2 linked regions of the Homo sapiens genome follow. The protein of the gene in region 1 interacts with the protein of each later gene in a biochemical or structural test. Each region holds a gene or a part of one and is shown in the gene's direction. Other genes may lie near its edges. The genes, in order: PPP2R2D and DAPK1.

Evidence for each region.
Region 2: of the proteins of PPP2R2D (region 1) and DAPK1, one has a biochemical effect on the other in vitro, tested with the Homo sapiens proteins (one study listed by BioGRID).

What each region holds. Positions count from the first base shown.
Region 1 is NC_000010.11:131,951,642-131,961,815, forward strand, and holds the end of PPP2R2D (serine/threonine-protein phosphatase 2A 55 kDa regulatory subunit B delta isoform), read left to right. Parts: intron 1-4,042; coding exon 4,043-4,322; 3' UTR 4,323-8,193; downstream 8,194-10,174. UniProt on the Homo sapiens protein: Substrate-recognition subunit of protein phosphatase 2A (PP2A) that plays a key role in cell cycle by controlling mitosis entry and exit. Involved in chromosome clustering during late mitosis by mediating dephosphorylation of MKI67.
Region 2 is NC_000009.12:87,498,669-87,508,842, forward strand, and holds part of DAPK1 (death-associated protein kinase 1), read left to right. Parts: intron 1-301; 5' UTR 302-409; coding exon 410-471; intron 472-10,174. UniProt on the Homo sapiens protein: Calcium/calmodulin-dependent serine/threonine kinase involved in multiple cellular signaling pathways that trigger cell survival, apoptosis, and autophagy.

The sequences.
Region 1 (10,174 bases):
GAAACCCCATCTCTACTAGAAATACAAAAATTAGCCGGACATGGTGGTGCATGCCTTTAATCCCACCACTCAGGAGGCTGAGGCAGGAGAATCGCTTGAACCTTGGAGGTGGAGGTTGCAGTAAGCTGAGATTGTGCCACTGCACTCCAGCCTGGGCGATAGAGTGAGACTCTGTCTCAAAAAAAAACAAAAAAAATCTGTATACAAAATATAAATGTGTGTGGGGATGACACATATGTACTCTAGCAAGTGAGGACCCCAACTGGGGATGGGATAGGAGACCATCTTTCTTTCCAGAGTGGCAACACAGTGCAGGGGGGTCCCTGTCTTAGCAGTGACTTGCTGGTGTGCAGAGGGGTCACTCTCTTAGCAGTGACTTGCGGGTGTGCAGGGGGTTCACCACCTTACCAGTGACTTGCAGGGGGTCCCTGTCTTAACAGTGACTTGCGGGTGTGCAGGGGGGTTCGCTGTCTTAGCAGTGACTTGCGGGTGTGCGGGGGGGTTCACTGTCTTAGCAGTGACTTGCGGGTGTGCAGGGGGTTTCACTGTCTTAGCAGTGACTTGCGGGTGTGCGGGGGGGTTCACTGTCTTAGCAGTGACTTGGGGGGTCCCTGTCTTAGCAGTGACTTGCGGGTGTGCGGGGGTTCACTGTCTTAGTGACTTGCGGGTGTGCGGGGGGTTCACTGTCTTAGTGATTTGCATGTGTGGGGGGGGTTCACTGTCTTAGTGACTTGCGGGTGTGCGGGGGTTCACTGTCTTAGTGACTTGCGGGTGTGCGGGGGTTCACTGTCTTAGCAGTGACTTGTGGGTGTGCGGGGGTTCACTGTCTTAGTGACTTGGTGTGCGGGGGGGTTCACTGTCTTAGTGACTTGTGGGTGTGCGGGTGGTTCACTGTCTTAGTGACTTGCGGGTGTGCGGGGGGTTCACTAGTGACTTGCGGGTGTGCGGGGGGTTCACTGTCTTAGTGACTTGCGGGTGTGCGGGGGGTTCACTGTCTTAGTGACTTGCGGGTGTGCGGGGGGGTTCACTTAGTGACTTTCGGGTGTGTGGGGGTTCACTGTCTTAGTGACTTGCGGGTGTGCGGGGTTCACTGTCTTAGTGACTTGCGGGTGTGCGGGGGGTTCACTGTCTTAGTGACTTGCGGGTGTGCAGGGGGTTCACTTAGCAGTGACTTGCGGGTGTGTGTGTGGGGTTCACTGTCTTAGCAGTGACTTGCGGGGGGGGTCCCTGTCTTATCAGTGACTTGCGGGTGTGTGTGGGGGGTTCACTGTCTTAGCAGTGACTTGCGGGGGGGGTCCCTGTCTTATCAGTGACTTGCGAGTGTGCGGGGGTTCACTGTCTTAGTGACTTGCGGGTGTGCAGGGGGTTCACTGTCTTAGTGACTTGCGGGTGTGCAGGGGGTTTCACTGTCTTAGCAGTGACTTGCGGGTGTGTGTGGGAGGTTCACTGTCTTAGCAGTGACTTGCGGGGGTTCCCTGTCTTAGCAGTGACTTGCAGGTTTGCGGGGGTTCACTGTCTTAGTGACTTGCGGGTGTGCGGGGGGTTTCACTGTCTTAGCAGTGACTTGCGGTTGTGTGTGGGGGGGTTCACTGTCTTAGCAGTGACTTGCGGGGGGGTCCCTGTCTTAGCAGTGACTTGCAGGTATGCGGGGGTTCACTGTCTTAGTGACTTGCAGGTGTGCGGGGGTTCACTGTCTTAGTGACTTCCAGTTGTGCGGGGGGTTCACTTAGCAGTGACTTGCAGGTGTGTGGGGGGTTCACTGTCTTAGCAGTGACTTGCGGGGGGTCCCTGTCTTAGCAGTGACTTGCAGGTGTGCGGGGGTTCACTGTCTTAGTGACTTGTGGGTGTGCGGGGGGTTCACTTAGTGACTTGCAGGTGTGCAGGGGGTTTCACTGTCTTAGCAGTGACTTGTGGTTGTGTGTGTGGGGGTCACTGTCTTAGCAGTGACTTGCGGGTATGCGGGGGTTCATTGTCTTAGTGACTTGCGGGTGTGCAGGGGTTCACTGTCTTAGTGACTTCCAAGTGTGCGGGGGGTTCACTGTCTTAGCAGTGACTTGCGGGTGTGTGGGGGGGTCACTGTCTTAGTGACTTGCTGGTGTGCGGGGGTTCACTGTCTTAGTGACTTGCGAGTGTGCGGGGGGTTCACTGTCTTAGCAGTGACTTGCGGGTACATGGATAGTCACTGTATTTTTTATTCCTCTTGATATATTTCAAATATTGCAAAATACCCTTAGATTACATATCCCCAAGAACATCTAAAAGCGTTCCCAGTAACATTTGCTTAGTCCATTCACTCTCAAAAACACGCCAGTCTTCCTACCTGGAAACTTCTGTTGAGGGATGCGATGAAGGGGAGTGAGGCGTTTCAGTGCTGCCTCAGCCCAATCCTGATTCTCCGTGTGGCAGCGCCTTCTTGTGTTCTAGGTCGCCCCACAGAACCAGTTATGTGCTTACGCCTGTGTCTCTGTCTGTGCTGTTCCCTTCCTGGGCCAGCACCAGGCTGCTGGGCAGCGCCCTTGTTTGCAGTGTGGAAACACCCACTCTGGGGCTGGCACTATCTGTCGAGAATTTAAAAGTGATCATAAATCTGTATGAAAGCTGATGTGCTTTTCGTTATTACCATGCACCAGCAATTCCAGTCAGTGTCGGCCATACATCATCTGTCGTCTGTGTTCTGAATAATGGTTACTGTTGAGTTTTAATAACATAAATGTAAGCTTCAGATTCACACATTCTTATTACTTACCCTTTCGTAAACATTGTGTTTTATGTGGAAACTAATTTGGGGAACCCCCAGTCAATGGCCCTCACGTGCCAACTTGGCTGCATACCCCTGTTCCAAGACCACGTGCACAGCTTGGCATTGCTGGAGGGCGCTGGGCACACCTTGTGTCTCCCGCCTCTGTGGCGCTGTGGGCTCCTGGATGGAAGCAGGAGATGGGAAATAAACATGGATCGCTGAATGCAGTTTCTCTTCTCTGAGTTCGTCTTTTTTTTTTTTTTTTCCCCTGCTTTGAAGTTTTAGACAAGGTCAGTCAGACACTAGGTATTTGCCAGCAGCCAGGGTCAGTGCTGGGCCATGGAAGGGAAGCGGCCCGCTTCTTTCTCATGGCACCTTGAAGACGCGCCAGCGTGAAAGGCCTCTCACCGCGCATGACCATGGGGGCAGGACGTGAGGGCGCGGGTTAGTGTCAAAATAGGAAGAGGAGGCGAGCTTCAAGGACGGCTGGAGAAACCAGAAGGGCATTGTTTGAACACATCTTTCATCAGAAACTGGACTCATGAAGCCATGGGTCAAATCATGGCAGCGTTTGCATCATTCAGCTATTTTTCTGTCATTTTTGTAGAAAATGTAAGATTGCAGAGGTTTTTACCAGTATTATGAAGTTATATCATGAGGATGTGTGCGGTAGTAGAATTTTTCGACAGCAGAGACATTTGAAAGCCATTACAGTTGATCTTGAAGAAACAAAAGCATGGACGGTATTGTATTGTCTGGAATGTGTGTGAAATGCAGTTGTTCTAAAATTCTGCCACACTTTGCCCAGTGGATTTTTACTATTTCTATCCGTTGCCTCATTTGAAAGAAACTTTTTGAAATTAATAGAAAAGCAGTTTAACTCCAAAGAAACATTGACAGATATGACTAGTAACTGTTGAACATGATAAGGATTATGTTCAGGTCATTATGGATCATTGACAAATTGCAGAACATAAGGCTTAAAAATAAACTGTGCTGTTATTCATGAGTGAGATAAATAGGTGGGGTTGTTTCAAAAAATACACTAATGTTAAAAGTGTGACTCCATTATTTTGTTTCTCCTGTGACATGGATTCTTACTGACATGATTATAGATAAAGCTCGGTACACATTTTCACTGCATTTCTCTTCTGCCCATTGTGATTGATCATTCCTGATTTCTGAAAGTAACTGGGTTGTGGGGGAGGGTGGCGTGCGCTGTGCACCCCAGGGGTGGGGTCTGAGTCCTTGCTGCCGCTCCCCCCACTGAGGAGTGCTGCTGTCTGCTCTTGTTTTGAACAGCGCCATCATGACCGGGTCCTATAACAACTTCTTCAGGATGTTTGATAGAGACACGCGGAGGGATGTGACCCTGGAGGCCTCGAGAGAGAGCAGCAAACCGCGCGCCAGCCTCAAACCCCGGAAGGTGTGTACGGGGGGTAAGCGGAGGAAAGACGAGATCAGTGTGGACAGTCTGGACTTCAACAAGAAGATCCTGCACACAGCCTGGCACCCCGTGGACAATGTCATTGCCGTGGCTGCCACCAATAACTTGTACATATTCCAGGACAAAATCAACTAGAGACGCGAACGTGAGGACCAAGTCTTGTCTTGCATAGTTAAGCCGGACATTTTTCTGTCAGAGAAAAGGCATCATTGTCCGCTCCATTAAGAACAGTGACGCACCTGCTACTTCCCTTCACAGACACAGGAGAAAGCCGCCTCCGCTGGAGGCCCGGTGTGGTTCCGCCTCGGCGAGGCGCGAGACAGGCGCTGCTGCTCACGTGGAGACGCTCTCGAAGCAGAGTTGACGGACACTGCTCCCAAAAGGTCATTACTCAGAATAAATGTATTTATTTCAGTCCGAGCCTTCCTTTCCAATTTATAGACCAAAAAATTAACATCCAAGAGAAAAGTTATTGTCAGATACCGCTCTTTCTCCAACTTTCCCTCTTTCTCTGCCATCACACTTGGGCCTTCACTGCAGCGTGGTGTGGCCACCGTCCGTGTCCTCTCGGCCTTCCTCCGAGTCCAGGTGGACTCTGTGGATGTGTGGATGTGGCCCGAGCAGGCTCAGGCGGCCCCACTCACCCACAGCATCCGCCGCCACCCCTTCGGGTGTGAGCGCTCAATAAAAACAACACACTATAAAGTGTTTTTAAATCCAAACAGAAGTATTGTCTTTTTATTTAATTTTATTGCATAGAATGAAGTTATGCAGGGTTCTTCTTTGGAACTAACTGTTTGAGAAATGTGTGTCCTTCTTTGGCAGCGTGGGGGTATGTGTGCAGCATTTCTGTCCCCAAGCTGCTGCCCGCTGTGTTTCTGTAGAAGTAGCCCATCAGATACACCAGGTAAGGTCTGGGAAAAGCCAGAACCGAGGCCACCTCTGAGAAAGAAAATTGCAAGGAAGAACCAAAATTGCTGCCATCCAGTAAGCCTGGTTTAAAGTAGCTTCAAATTCACTACAGTTGAAGAAATACGTGCTTGCTTTCTAAGGCTTTTGAAAAAGCACTTTGGGGAAAGTATACTTTTTAAACATTGCTAAAATTACATGCATGCTAAATTTCATCCTGCATTTCAAGCCAGCAAAATTAAGCAATTTTAATTACACGATGCCACCAGTACGTTGGTTTATTTTCAAAGTAGGATCTTTGATACCAGAAATCAAGATTTTCCAAGACAAATAATACAGAGCTGTACCAATGCTGAGTGACCAGAGCTTGCTTCCGTGGGATTTAACACACGCCCACTACGTGTCCCCGAGGGGAGTGGGGAGTCGGGCTCCCGTGCCCCTGTGGAGATGGAGGTGTGTGCTGATCCCCCGTCCGCCTGTGGAGATGAAGGTGTGTGTTGATTCCTCCTGCTGCTGTGGAGATGGAGGTGTGTGCTGATCGCCCGTCACCCTGTCTAGATGAAGGTATGTGCTGATTGCCTGTGCCCCTGTGGAGAAGGAGGTGTGTGCTGATCCCCTGTGCCCTGTGGAGATGGAGGTGTGTGCTGCTCCCTCGTGCCCCTGTGGAGATGGAGGTGTGTGCTGATCCCCCATCCCATCCCCCTGTCTAGATGAAGGTGTGTGCTGATTCCTCATGCCCCTGTCTGGATGAAGGTGTGTGCTGATCCCCCGTCCCCCTGTGGAGATGAAGGTGTGTGCTGATCCCCCGTGCCCCTGTGGAGATGAAGGTGCGTGCTGATCCCCCATCTCCCTGTGGAGATGAAGGTGTGTGCTGATCCCCATCCCCCTGTGGAGATGAAGGGATATGCTGATCCCCTGTCCCACTGTGGAGATGAAGGGGTGTGCTGATCCCCCGTCCCCCTGTGGAGATGAAGGTGTGTGCTGATCCCCCATCTCCCTGTGGAGATGAAGGGGTGTGCCAATCCCCCGCGCCCCTGTGGAGATGGAGGCGTGTGCTGATCCCCATCCCCCTGTGGAGATGAAGGTGTGTGCTGATCCCCCATCCCCATGTGGAGATGAAGGGGTGTGTTGATCCCCTGTCCCCCTGTGGAGATGGTGTGTGCTGATCCCCGTCCCCCTGTGGAGATGAAGGTGTGTGCTGATCCCCCATCTCCCTGTGAAGATGAAGGGGTGTGCTGATCCCCCGTGCCCCTGTGGACATGGAGGCGTGTGCTGATCCCCCGTCCCCCTGTGGAGATGAAGGTGTGTGCTGATCCCCCATCCCCATGTGGAGATGAAGGGGTGTGTTGATCCCCCGTCCCCCTGTGGAGATGAAGGTGTGTGCTGATCCCCGTCCCCCTGTGGAGATGAAGGGGTGTGCTGATCCCCCATGCCCTGTGGAGATGGAGGTGTGTGCTGATCCCTCGTGCCCCTGTGGAGATAGAGGTGTGTACTGATCCCCTGTTCCCCTATCTAGATGAAGGTGTGTACTGCTGATCCCCCGTCCCCCTGTGGAGATGAAGGTGTGTGCTGATCCCCCATCCCCCTGTGGAGATGAAGGGGTGTGCTGATCCCCCGTCTTCCTGTGGAGATGAAGGTGTGTGCTGATTCCTCATGCCCCTGTGGAGATGGAGGTGTGTGCTGATCCCCCATCCCCCTGTGGGGATGAAGGTGTGTGCTGATCCCCCATCCCCCTGTGGAGATGAAGGGGTATGCTGATCCCCCGTCCCCCTGTGGAGATGAAGGTGTGTGCTGATCCCCCATCCCCCTGTGGAGATGAAGGGGTATGCTGATCCCCTGTCCCCCTGTGGGGATGAAGGTGTGTGCTGATCTCTTGTCCCCCTGTGGAGATGGAGGTGTGTGCTGATCCCCCATCCCCCTGTGGAGATGAAGATGTGTGCTGATCCCCCGTCCTCCTGTGGAGATGAAGGTGTGTGCTGCTTCCTCGTGCCCCTGTGGAGATGGAGGTGTGTGCTGGTCCCCCGTCCCCCTGTGGAGATGGAGGTGTGTGCTGATCCCCCGTCCCCCTGTGGAGATGGAGGCGTGTGCTGATCCCCCATCCCCCTGTGGAGATGAAGGCGTGTGCTGATCCGCCATCCCACTGTGGAGATGAAGGCGTGTGCTGATCCCCCATCCCCCTGTGGAGATAAAGGTGTGTGCTGATCCCCCATCCCCCTGTGGAGATGAAGGCGTGTGCTGATCCGCCATCCCACTGTGGAGATGAAGGCGTGTGCTGATCCCCCATCCCCCTGTGGAGATGAAGGCGTGTGCTCATCCCCCATCCCCCTGTGGAGATGAAGGCGTGTGCTGATCCGCCATCCCACTGTGGAGATGAAGGTGTGTGCTGATCCCCCATCCCCCTGTGGAGATGAAGGTGTGTGCTGATCCCCGGTCCCCCTGTGGAGATGAAGGTGTGTGCTGATCCCCCGTCCTCCTGTGGAGATGAAGGCGTGTGCTGATCCCCCGTCCCCCTGTGGAGATGAAGGCGTGTGCTGATCCGCCGTCCCCCTGTGGAGATGAAGGCGTGTGCTGATCCGCCATCCCCCTGTGGAGATGAAGGCGTGTGCTCATCCCCCATCCCCCTGTGGAGATGAAGGCGTGTGCTGATCCGCCATCCCACTGTGGAGATGAAGGTGTGTGCTGATCCCCCATCCCCCTGTGGAGATGAAGGCGTGTGCTGATCCCCGGTCCCCCTGTGGAGATGAAGGTGTGTGTTGATCCCCCATCCCCCTGTGGAGGTGAAGGTGTGTGCTGATTACTAATCCACATGGGCAAGAACAGGATGTCCGTCATTACCCTGAATCAATGCTAACACAGTGCCACTTGAGTTCACATTAAGTTAGAAATTGAGAATCTAAAGGTACCTTTATTTTAACTAAAAAATAATTTATATACTGTATATTGATTGTGACACAATTTACAAAGTCTGAGGTGTGGAACAGTTATTTAAGCATTAGTCAACCCTGGTCCTTAAGACAGTTCTAGTAAAATGGGATTGTATATATTTGTTCAACTATTTTGACCAAAAAGTTCAATAAATTTTAAATGTTTAACTGGATTTTCACTGCGTATTTGGACACCCTTTTCCATCTTCCTCTAGAATGTATTTCCCACTAAATAGCCCACCTCCTCCACCCCCAGGGCAGAGCAGAAGGTGCAGCCCAGGCGGGTCCCGTGTGTAGAGGTTCCACGTGGCACTGCTGCTCCCGTGGAACTGCCACTGCCTTGAGGTCTGCGGCGCACGTTCCCTGGAGGTGTCGTCACCTAGCTCTGGGGCGCCTGCGGGGGAAGCCACCTGGCCAGCAGTCCTGTCCGTTTCTGTGGGTTCTCCCCAGTGCAGTCTTGATGTTCTGAGAGGCGCTGGCAATTCCACGCACCTATGTCCGCAAAAAGCAGGATCCATTCACTTTAGAGAAGTGCCCTCAACAGGCGCGGAGGAAGACGTGCCCTCAACAGGTGCGGAGAAAACTTCTCTTTCCTGCTTAAAGTAGAACAGTGTCATCAGCTTCTGAAGGTTAATGCTGAGCACAGTTTTCATTGATGAGGATTCTGGGCCCGTGGTTCAGGTGGAGGTTTGCTGCTCTCTGGGCTGATGACCCGGATTCCATGAACACACTTTCTTCGTAAGTGGATTTAACGTGCCTTTTTTGAAAGAAAAATGGAGCTCCTATGAACCAGTTTATGATGCCCTCGTGGACAGACTCAGTCTGATTTTGGAGGCCACACGACTGGCAGGTGTGGCTGGAGACTGCAGCATGTGCGTGTCTGTCTGTCCTGTGTGGAGCCAAATCATCACCATCAGTGCCAGAAGCCTCCCAAAGCCCAGTGCCATGGGATTGGTGTGTGTCCTGCTCCCGGCCGGAAGAAGCTGGCCCTGGATCCGCCTGGCCCGGCTGCTCTGCATCACCCCTTTGCTTGCTTGGGAGGAAGAGTGGGTCTGGGGCTGCGGAGGCTCTCCGGGTGGCCTTAAGCTTGCTTTCTCCTAAACCTGTGCTGTGCGTCCTTGGCCAGCGGCTTTGGCATCAGCCAGGGAGTGGGGGAGTGAGGTCAGAGCCAGCAGGAGTCCGGGCTGTGCTGGGTAGCAGAGGTCGCATCTTCCCAGAGCTGCAGGCAAAGGGACAGGATGGGCTTGCTGTATGAGGGCGTGGCTCTGCTCGTCCTGGGCTGGGCCAGGGGTGCTGAGTGGGGCTGTAGCCGCATCTTCTGTGGCGAGCTGTCCTGTCGTTGCTGTGCTGGGATCGCCAAGGGAGAGGGACGGAAGCTGTCCGTGAGCTGGTGAGACAGCAAGCCAGGAATCCAGCCACAGGTGGGGAGACAATGCAGCTCAAACTGGTGGAGCTGCAAGGGCCCACAGACCACCTTCAGACGCTGCCCGCGGCCGACGCTTCCCCAACCCCTGGGAGAGGCCTGGGCCTGGGGGCCTGGCGGGCCCCGCGCTCTTCCCTTGGGTCCCGTCCTCCGAGGGGGCTGCCTGCCAAAGCCAAGTTCAGCAGTCCCCGACAGTGGGCTTCTCTGCACAGGTGGTGTGCAGGGGTGGGTGGAGTGTAGACCAGATGTGAGTAAAGGCAGCACCCCCAGCCCCACAGGGCTGTCACAGCTCAGGCCCTGCAGAGCTGTGGGGTTTGGCTGCTGTGGGTGGCAACCCCTCCTAAGTGCCTGCTGCAGGTGGGCGCTGGGCCAGGGCTTTCCCTACAGCCACCCTGGCCATGGGTCACAGACGCACACACCACAGCACCCGGCTGGGCACTGGGGTGATACTGGGCTTGGCTTTGAGCTCCGTGCCTCTGTGCCCCATACGCCCCTCAGATCTCTGGTGACAGTGCGGGGCTGCCTACAGGACACCCAGGGCTCCTTGATCTTTTAGGAACTGCGGCACCCCCGAAGCTGTGACAGGTGCAGAGGCGCTGCCGTCCTGGGCCGGGCCTCACCTTCCGCCTTGTGTGCTCTGGCGCCAGCACCCAGTCCCAAGGGCACAGCGGCTGCGACTTGCCTCTGGCCAGGGCAGGTGGTGGTGTCATACCCAGGACGGGAACCCACAC
Region 2 (10,174 bases), on another chromosome or scaffold:
AAGGGGAGGCGGGGAGGCCAGTCACTTCCGGAGCCGGTTCTGATCCCAACAGACCGCCCAGCGTTTGGGGACGCCGACCTCGGGGTGCCGTGGTGCCCGGCCCCACGCGCGCGCGGGGCTGAGGGGTCGGGGGCGTCCCTGGCCGCCCAGCTTTAACAAAGGGTGCTCCTCTCCACCCCGCGAGGAGGGGCAGCTCCGGAGACCCGGTCTTCAGCGAGCGGGGTCTTAGCGCCGGGGAGGTCTACTTCCTTTTGGGGTTGCCATTTTACTATTATTATTGCCTTTTTTTTTTCTTCAAAAGGACTGGAGACTGATGCATGAGGGGGCTACGGAGGCGCAGGAGCGGTGGTGATGGTCTGGGAAGCGGAGCTGAAGTGCCCTGGGCTTTGGTGAGGCGTGACAGTTTATCATGACCGTGTTCAGGCAGGAAAACGTGGATGATTACTACGACACCGGCGAGGAACTTGGCAGGTAAAGGGGGTACCAGAAGCGTACCCTCCTGGATTGTGGAAATGCATAACGATGGGGCCATTGGGTGGTAAACAAATGCAGTTTGAATCAGGCGTCTCCCTCGCCCTTTCTGGAGATGCGCAAATCATAGAGAAAAGAGTTACTAACCCAGCGGTAAACCGCCTGATCCAAGGGCCTGGGGGTGGAGGAGAGGCAGCAGTTCAGGGCTAGATTATGATGCACAGTATATTGATCCAGTCCCCTGGACAAAATCAGATTTAATTGTCCGTGCTAACTCTTGTCAGCCCTTGCCCTTCTGTGACAACAGGACAAACACTAAGATTATAATTGCAATTGGAGTTAGCTTTTATGTGTGATTTAAACGGAGGGTACAAACTAATTAATAGGTTTTAAAAATCTTAGTACTTTACCCTCTATCTAAATTTTCAGTGTAATTTGAGCAAGTATTGGTAGGTGGTAAATGGAGACTTGCCAGATGTTGACATTGGGCTTGGATTTTGAAACTTCTTCCAACCAGGAATTTAATTACCTGGTTGGTGTTGGTGGTTGCTTTGGTTTCATTTACAATGTTAAATTTTTAACAAATCAATGAGAGTCTAATATGGCTATCTGGATTCAGAGCATACCTCCATTGCTGTAGCAGCTGTGATTCTCAGTGTAAAATCTTTCAGTTTCTAGGTAAACAAAGAATAGTTTCTTTCGGGGCATCTAAGGGCTGATTGCTGTTTCCTTTGACTGTGTATTAGACAGAGTGTTTTGGGCTCTGGTCAACTTTAGTAGAAAACCTAGTTTTCATACATACATTTAAAACTGAATTTATGGAATTTGACTGTGGTGTATTTACATTGTGAGTGGAGTAGGCAAAAGGATCTTTAAACAAACAAAATATGTATTTACTTATATGTGCATTGAAATATGTATTTTCCCATATACATCTGATGTCCTGATACAAAGCTTCCTTTTTCTCCATGAAAAGGAAATTAAAAAACACCCACATCCTGGATTGCCTAATGAGAATTATGGAAACTAAGCTTAACTAAATTTTTTTAAAAATTCAAATGATAGTGTAGAATTTTTTTAAAAGTTACTGTAACAGAGTATTTCTCTAAATATTTAGTATCGACTGAAAACATAGATGGGGGCCTGTGCTTAGGAAGAGCTCTCTGTATATTGATGATCTGGTGAGTAAATAAGGAAAGCTCTTCAAACATCACATTTCATGGATATGTTTAAGATTAAAGTTTAAGAGTGTGTGGGTGAAATATTTGGTTTAACTGGAATTAAATAACTTTACTGTGGTTTTCAGCAAGATGAGTGGTATTTGGAGTTTTCCTTTGGGACTGGAAGAAAAAAGCAAAAAAATAAATTTTAATTTGATTTGCATAGTGTGGCCTGATCGTTTAAGTGTTGTTAGAAAGAGAGATGACTAAAATTAGTTGAGATTATTATATTATGGATTAAGTATATTGACCTTATTTTCATTATGATTTTTTGGTACCATTATGTGTTATGAGAAAGAAATAGAAAAAGAGGCCTCCCTGTGGTTGGCGAAGGGAGTTTTTGATCTTTATTTCGTGGGCGTGATGATGAGGGGAGGGAGGTGGCTTACTTATTTGTCACTAGCACTTTGATTTGCTCAGTGTACATTTTTGTGTATAACGTTCTCCCCACTGTGCAAGGCAAATTGACAAATTGTTTATTAAATAATTTGTGTGACCTAGGAATTTTAAAGAAATGCTCTGAAAAACTGGAAGTCTGAAGTTTTTAAAAATGAAATGTACAGACTCATCTATCTTGTATAACTGCTATTGTTTTTGCCAAAAAATGAGTGAATGATTGTTTTTTGGAAAATTTTTCAAGTCCTGATTTTATGTCTGCCTTGGATGTAGCCACTTCCTGAAAACAAGTCCTAATGTAAAATGGACATGTAGGAAGATGCTGCTTATATGACATCACGTGTCACTGAGGGAAGATTGGGAGTGGAGGCAGGAGTTTGGTGGCAGGAAAATGGAAATGGGCAGATATGTGGCACAAATGCAAGGTCATTCTAAGCAGTGAATTACTAGTAGACCAGTATCTAAGATTTAAGACTTTACTTGGCCAGGCGAGGTGGCTCACACCTGTAATCCCAGCACTTTTGGGAGGCTGAGGTAGGCAAATCACGAGGTCAGGAGTTCAAGACCAGCCTGGCTAACATAGTGAAACCCTGTCTCTACTAAAAATACAAAAAAAATTATCTAAGATTTAAGACTTTAATTGGCCAGGCGCAGTGGCGCGCGCCTGTAGTCCCAGCTATTTGGGAGGCTGAGGCATGAGAATCGCCTGAACCTGGGAGGCGGAGGTTGCAGTGAATGGAGATCGCGCCACTGCCCTCCAGCCTGGGTGATACAGCGAGACTCTGTCTCAAAAAAAAAAGAAAGAAAAAAAAGACTTTACTTATATATCTTTAGCAGTCATCTAAATAATAACGATTCACTTACCTTATAAATGTAGTGAGACAAAGTACATAGCCAGGAGGAAAGATGGGTTTTTGAAGAAGTAGAGTACAAGTATTATTGTTAATGTTATTTTACTTTTAGGAAAATTGAAAATGTTCGTATTTGTGTGTACTGCCTAAGACTTCTGTAAAAGCTCTCTGTCAACGGTCAGGAACTTTATAGAGTATTGCAACTATTGCAGCAGTCCATCTGCAGCAGTAATAGAGCAGATGGGCCACTGGACAGATACCCTGGTCCAAAACCTGGCTCTGCAACTTGCCAGTTTTCTTGAACAGGCCATTTACCCACTCTGACACTCAGGATTTTCCTCTATGAGAGGTTTAGTGCTTTTTTCATTGCTGTTGTAAAAATAATCTAACTTGTAAAAGTAGTTGATCAGCAGTAGAGAGTTAAACAAATATAGATATTATCTGTAGACTGGCTGAGACATCTGGGTGCCCCAGGCAAGCTAATAACTTGGCCGGCAAGTCAATATTCTTTAAGTTTCTGTTTACCAGCTTTGGGAGGGGATGCCTTATAGGAAAAGGGTCATGGGGAGAAGGGTTGCTGACAGCATTCAGCCTCCACTATGATTCTGAATAATGCAGCCCTGGCCTTGAGCTGGCACACCCTCCAAGCAGAAGCAAGTCCCTGCAGCAGATGCACTTGTTATCTTTAGAAGGGTGCTTGGTGGCCTTCAGTTTTGGCTCCTGGAGGCCCTTTAGGGTCTCACCCTCTGTCCCAGGAGGCGGAACAAAGAACTGCCTCCATGATGTGTAATAGTCTCTGGGAGGAGTTCTTATAAATCTGCTATTATACCGAGGTGTTTTAATGCCCCAGGATGCCCTAGCATCTCTTATCAGTTGGCACCTCGGGCAGCTGCAGGCTGACTTGCCCCATTGTCGGGCTCTAGTTACACCCTTGGCCGTCGTTCAGCCTAACCTGTGAGCCTCCTGGGCACCTCTCTGTGTACACTGCTTTCCTGAGGGACTGGCCTTCTTTCCTATTGCACCATCTGACCTTATATGATCTTAAGACCTAAGTCCTACTTCCTTAATGAATCCTTCCACAATGAGTTTCCCCTTTTAAAGTCAAGTGACTTCTCTGAGACTCTCTTTGTCCATGACCATAGACTGCCCAGTGACATGTTTATCCTGTTTCATGTTTATTAGTCTTGTATTACTCTTTGCAGCCAGCTTGTGAGTTTCTTTGGGGTGTGCCCTGTGGTTTGGAGTTGTTGTGGTCCTTTCTCCCCATGGTGTGCAGGGTTTCATAGACTTCCTGCAAATTGGTATCTATGATCAATATTGGGATTAATGCATGCCTCAATGAGCTAATGCAGTTTGGCAAGTGTAATTTTGAGACCAGAATGGGGATGTAAGATGCAAACGATGATGCTGATGCTGATACTGTTAGAGAGGCAGTGTGCAGTGTGGAAAAACCTGAGAATGCTCATTTGGAAAGTGGGGAGACACCTACCCTGGTAGAGTGTTGTTAGAATTACAGACGTGGCTTTAAACATCTGACATGCAGTCTGTCTTTCTAGTCTACAGGTAGATATGCATTTACTGAACACCTACTAAGTGTGATGTGTCTAAAATATATATATATGTATATGTTTTTTATATATATGTGTGTGTGTATATGTATATATATATATATTTTAGAGACAGGGTCTTACTCTGTTTCCCAGGCTGGAGTGCAGTGGCACAGTCATAGCTCACTGTAACCTTGAACTCCTGGGCTCAAGCAGTCCTCCCACCTTGGCCTTCCAAAGCTCTGAGATTATAGGGCAGAGACACTGTGCCTGGCCTCTAATATATCATTTTTATTATTTTTAATAACCTGTTTTCTCCATCACAGCATTTACCACATTGCATAGTAACTGCTTATTTGATGATCTGCTTTCTCCATGGGGCCATTACCTTGGACTTGCTCCTCACTTTTTATTTCTAATGCCCAGGTTGATGCATGGCACTTAGAAGGCGCTCAGTAAATGCATGCTGTTAGACTAGACTGAGTGGATCAATATATGTAAAGCAACTTGAAAGAATATGTATGTATTAGGGCCTCAACAAATGATGGCTTGTGGTGAAGATGAACACTTAGGATATAATGGCTGCCGCTCATCAAAATAAAAACTGCTCTTGTTTTTGCATTCTTTGTGGCTGAACAGTAATGAGCACAGCAGCCAAAATTTTCAAGCACAAGATCAGTTTTAAACAAAACAAATGAAGTGGAGCATTAAATATTTTACATTGGTTTGGATGGTCATTGGAAGCTAATAATTCAAGTTTAAAACATTCCCCTTTCGGCATAAAATCCATAGGCATTTTAATTGAAGTAAGAAATTGTCATAAGCCCTGGCAGTCCAAGTGCTTCTCTAGACCGGTTTACTGTGGATTGCAGGAGTCAGTCCTATGAATAATGGCAACCCTGTGTGGCTCATAGAAGGGGAGAGACTTTCTGGCATGTTTTTTCTTCAGAAATGGGAACCGCAGGCCACCGGTGGGTTTCTGCATCCTTATAGGACTGTGCTGAATGTGACATTTTTCCTCTTAGCATTTTTGACTCAGAATGCTCTCAGATGTTTCCTCTGATAGGAAAGGGTCCAAAGTTTTAAGAGAGATAAAGTTCAGCTACATAGATTAAAGGCAACGGTTAGTGATTTTAAAAGTGTGTACATTTTAGGAAGGTCTAATAATAATTTTCCAGGATGTGAAGGGAAAGCATGATGGTGTTAGTAAGTGGCAGTTTGGTTGAATGCTTGCTTGCTGGCACTGGGAGTGTGTTGCTGGATTACTAGGGCAGGCATCAAATTTAGGTTCAAGGGGGCCAGGAACAGAGTAGGTGGAGGTGCTTATTGGTCGGGAAGCCAGGGAACATGGAAGCTCACTTCTTGGTCCCCCATGCTCTTTTACCCTCAGCTTGTGTCTCCCCGGCCAATGAGGAAACTGAAGGCCCCATATCATTGGTATATGCCTCTGCAAAGCCATGAAAAACTCATAAGAAACCTACAGAGATGGATGTCCAGATAAATTCCAGTGCACTCATCCCTCGGTATCCATGGCGGATTAGTTCCAGGACCTCTGGGGACACCAGAATCCACAAATGCTGAAGTCCCTTATATAAAATGGCATAGTATTTGCATATAACTGATGTAATCTTCCCATATATCTTAAATCATCTCTAGATTACTTACAATACTTAGTACAATGTAAATGCTAACTAAATAGTAGCATTATAATGTTTAGGGAATAATAACCAGAAAAAAAAGTCTGTATATGTTCAGTACAGATGCAGTTTTTTCCTGAATATTTTTGGTACAAGGTTGGTTGAATCCATGGATGCAGAACCCACAGATCCAGAGGGCTGACTGTAGTTGTATACAGGTGTTATATCAGGAGAGGCAACATTGGCTCTTCCACCTTGTTCTCTTCCCTCCTAGCAGAGTTGTAATCCAGACCACTTCTTTCCAGATGATTAGGGGTGAGGGGCTGAGCTGCTGGATATCTGATATCTGGGAGTGGCATGGTCAAGGTCACATTGCCTGACTCAGCAGGGAAATGTGTTAGGAACTTTCATCCTTCATTCTAGCCAACTGCCATGAGTACCTAACATTTTGTATAAATTAAGTGAATATTATTTTAGTAGAAATTTATTTCTGATTATGAGACAAAGGAAGCCACTCTTCTGACAAGAGGGGAGTGGTTTCCATTGGGGAAGAGTACCCCAGAGAGCTCAGGGACTTTGTTTGTTTGTGTCTTTTTGTTTGTTTGATTTTGTTTTGTTTTTTTGAGACGGAGTCTCACTCTGTTGCCCAGGCTAGAGTGTAGTGGCGTGATCTCGGCTCACTGCAACCTCCGCCCTCTGGGTTCAAGTGATTCTCCTGCCTCAGCCTCCCAAGTAGCTGGGATTACAGGCGCCTGCCACCGTGCCTGGCTTATTTTTTGTATTTTTAGTAGAGACGGGGTTTCACCATCTTGGCCAGGCTGGTCTTGAACTCCTGACCTCGTGAGTCACCCTCCTCGGCCTCCCGAAGTGCTGGGATTACAGGCATGAATCACTGTGCCTGGCCTTTTGCATTTTTGGAGACGAAGTCTTGCTCTGTTGCCCAGGCTAGAGTGCAGTGGGGCGATCTTGGCTCACTGCAACCTCTGCCTCCCCAGTTCAAGTGATTCTCTGTCTCAGCCTCCAAATAGCTGGAATTATAGGCATGCATCACCATACCTGGCTAATTTTTTTATTTTTAGTAGAGGTGGGGTTTCGCCATGTTGGCTAGGCTGGTCTTGAACTCCTGACCTCAAGTGATCCGCCCGTCTCGGCCTCCCAAAGTGCTGGGATTATAAGCGTCAGCCTCTCGCTGTGCCTGGCCGGGACTTTGACCTGGAAGAAGGCTGAGTGACCAGCATTGCCTCCCTTCACATTTTATCCACCTGTGTTTAGACAGGTCAAGTGGCTTTCTCCAGGCAGCTGATTAAAAGGTGGCAAGACATGGACCCAGAACCCAGGGCCAGGCCTATTTCATTATCTGTGCTATTTAGGATTTGGCAGTTTTCCATCTTTGAAAGCCAGATGAAGTTGATATTTAAGAGAGGTGAAGTAGGCAGCCATTTGGCGCCAATTTATTTCAGCATCTGCATGGAGAAAATGGTTAGGGATAAATAGTAGACCCTTCATGGAAGGTTTTCATTTGAAGCCCAGCCAAAGGCAACAGGGTCTGCCCTTTGAGCTCAGAACTTTCGCAGGCCTTAACGACACACTGGGACCTTCTTTCCTTTTCCAAATGGCTTCAGCCTTGCAGTTTGGAATGATGTCAACATGTGGCGTAGTTTTATTCAAGTCCCAAGTTAATGGTTTACCTTTTTAGAAAACTCCAAAAACACTTTCATTGTTATTTAACTTTTGAGTTATGTAATGTCTAAGAGTCTTGTCTCTGACCCGTGCACCTACCTGCCACTGACCAACAGTTTCTCATTTCCTTACGCAACAACTAGTCTGGCTAGCTTAGAGTTGGTGTGTGATTGTTTGAGACTTTATGTGGAAGATAATATTTAATTGTTTTGTTCTGGTTTGTTGGGGTAAATTATACAAATGGAATGCATCCTTTCTCGGCCTTGAAAGAGGTTATATGACAGTACAATTATAATAAATTCAGTGTATGACTTTGGGTACATTCTATTATAAACGAATTTTTTTAAAGGTGCAGTTAGAAGAAGGTGGAAGAAAAAAGAAGTTGACACTCCGATTTTCCACATCATCTAACTAAAATGGATTTAAACTAACTTTCTCTAACTATTAAATCTTTCTTAGGTAAGTACAGTTGTATCCCAGCTCTAGAGTTAATGTGCTGGGTGGGTTTTTACAAATAAAAAATCTAAAACCTAAAATAGTTGTGTTTTATCTTCTGTCCCAATCCAAAACAAAACAAAACAATCATGTGATAGTAACTAATCTCTGGAGATACCTGACAAGCGTGGTCCAATAGTGACGCGGGTTTGTCACTTTGGTCTTTAGGTGACATTGACAGCTGGTGTGGCATATGGATCACACTGTGGTCATTGAAGTATAATGTTGCTTACTTCTGAGAAGTGATCATGGGGCCTTTTTTTTGAGACGGAATTTCGCTCTTGTTGCCCTGGCTGGAATGCAATGGCGCTATCTCGGCTCACTGCAACCTCCGCCTCCTGGGTTCAAGCGATTCTCCTGCCTCAGCCTCCCAAGTAGCTGGGATTACAGGCATGCACCACCACGCCTGGCTAATTTTGTATTTTTAGAGGATTTCTCCATGTTAGTCTGGCTGGTCTTGAACTCCTGACCTCAGGTGATCTGCTCGCCTCAGCCTCCCAAAGTGTTGGGATTACAGGCATGAGCCACCGCATCTGGTGTTCACGGGGCTTTTACCTTATGTACTACCTTTCGATGTTTCAGTTGTGAGCTTGAAAAATTTTATTCAGTAACCTAACATATAATTAGAGATGCCAGAGTGGTGGGGAGGGGAGGGAAGGAGGTTGGGAGAATGTTGTTGATTTTTTTTTTCCCTTTATAAACACATACAACTTTGGACGAAGAACATAATGTTTGAGCAAATGAATGCTTGTAAACTGCCGATCTCTGAAGTGTGAAAAGTTTATATTGATGGCACTTATATTCATAAGCCTGATGGGTTTTGGCTGGGAAATTTGGCTCGAGGTACGGACTTCTTTTGGGACACATTTTATTTTTCTGTCAAAACTGCCTGATTATTCTTATTTAGGAAATATGTGATGAATGAGGCTGGCTGGCAAATATTTTAAGTGCAGTTGATATTATAAATTTTCACCTACAAAAATGAACTACTTTTCATTGTTGAATAGTTATGTCTTAGTTCATTGCTTTTACTTTTGAAACTGTATAAACTTTTCCCTTTTTTTGGAGACGGAGTGTCGCTCTGTCACCCAGACTAGAGTGCAGTGGCATGCTCTTGGCTCGCTGCAACCTCTGCCTCCTGAGTCAAGTGATTCTCCTGCCTCAGCCTCCTGAGTAGCTGGGACTACAGGCACCCGCCACGACGCCCGGCTAATTTTTGTGTTTTTAGTAGAGACGGGGTTTCACCATGATGGCCAGGCTGATCTGGAACTCCTGACCTCAGGTGATCTGCCCTCCTCGGTCTCCCAAAGTACTGGGATTACAGGTGTGAGTCGCCGCACTGGTCCAACTTTTCCTTTTCACCTTAGAAAGATTGTCAGGATTTTTTTTTTTTTTTAAACGGAGTCTTGCTTTGTCGCCCAGGCTGGAGTGCAGTGGCGCGATTTCGGCTCACTGCAACCTCCACCTCCCGGGTTCACGCCATTCTCCTGCCTCAGCCTCCCGAGTAGCTGGGACTACAGGTGCCCGCCACCACACCTGGCTAATTTTTGGTATTTTTAGTAGAGTCAGGGTTTCACCGTGTTAGCCAGGATGGTCTCTATCTCCTGACCTCGTGATCCGCCCACCTCGGCCTCCCAAAGTGCTGGGATTACAGGCGTGAGCCACCGTGCCCGGCCACGATTGTCAGGATTTTTGAGACCTTACTACAACCCCTGACACCTGACCCACAGTATAGAATTTTCCAGGTGAAAAAGACATGTAGAGAAAGTCATCAATGCCATTCTTTTTTTTCCCCATTCATGAAAATGATTAGATTTTCCTTTGAGCTGCCTGTCTGTCTGCCTAGCACCTCATATGTCTATCCAGGACTGGGCTGC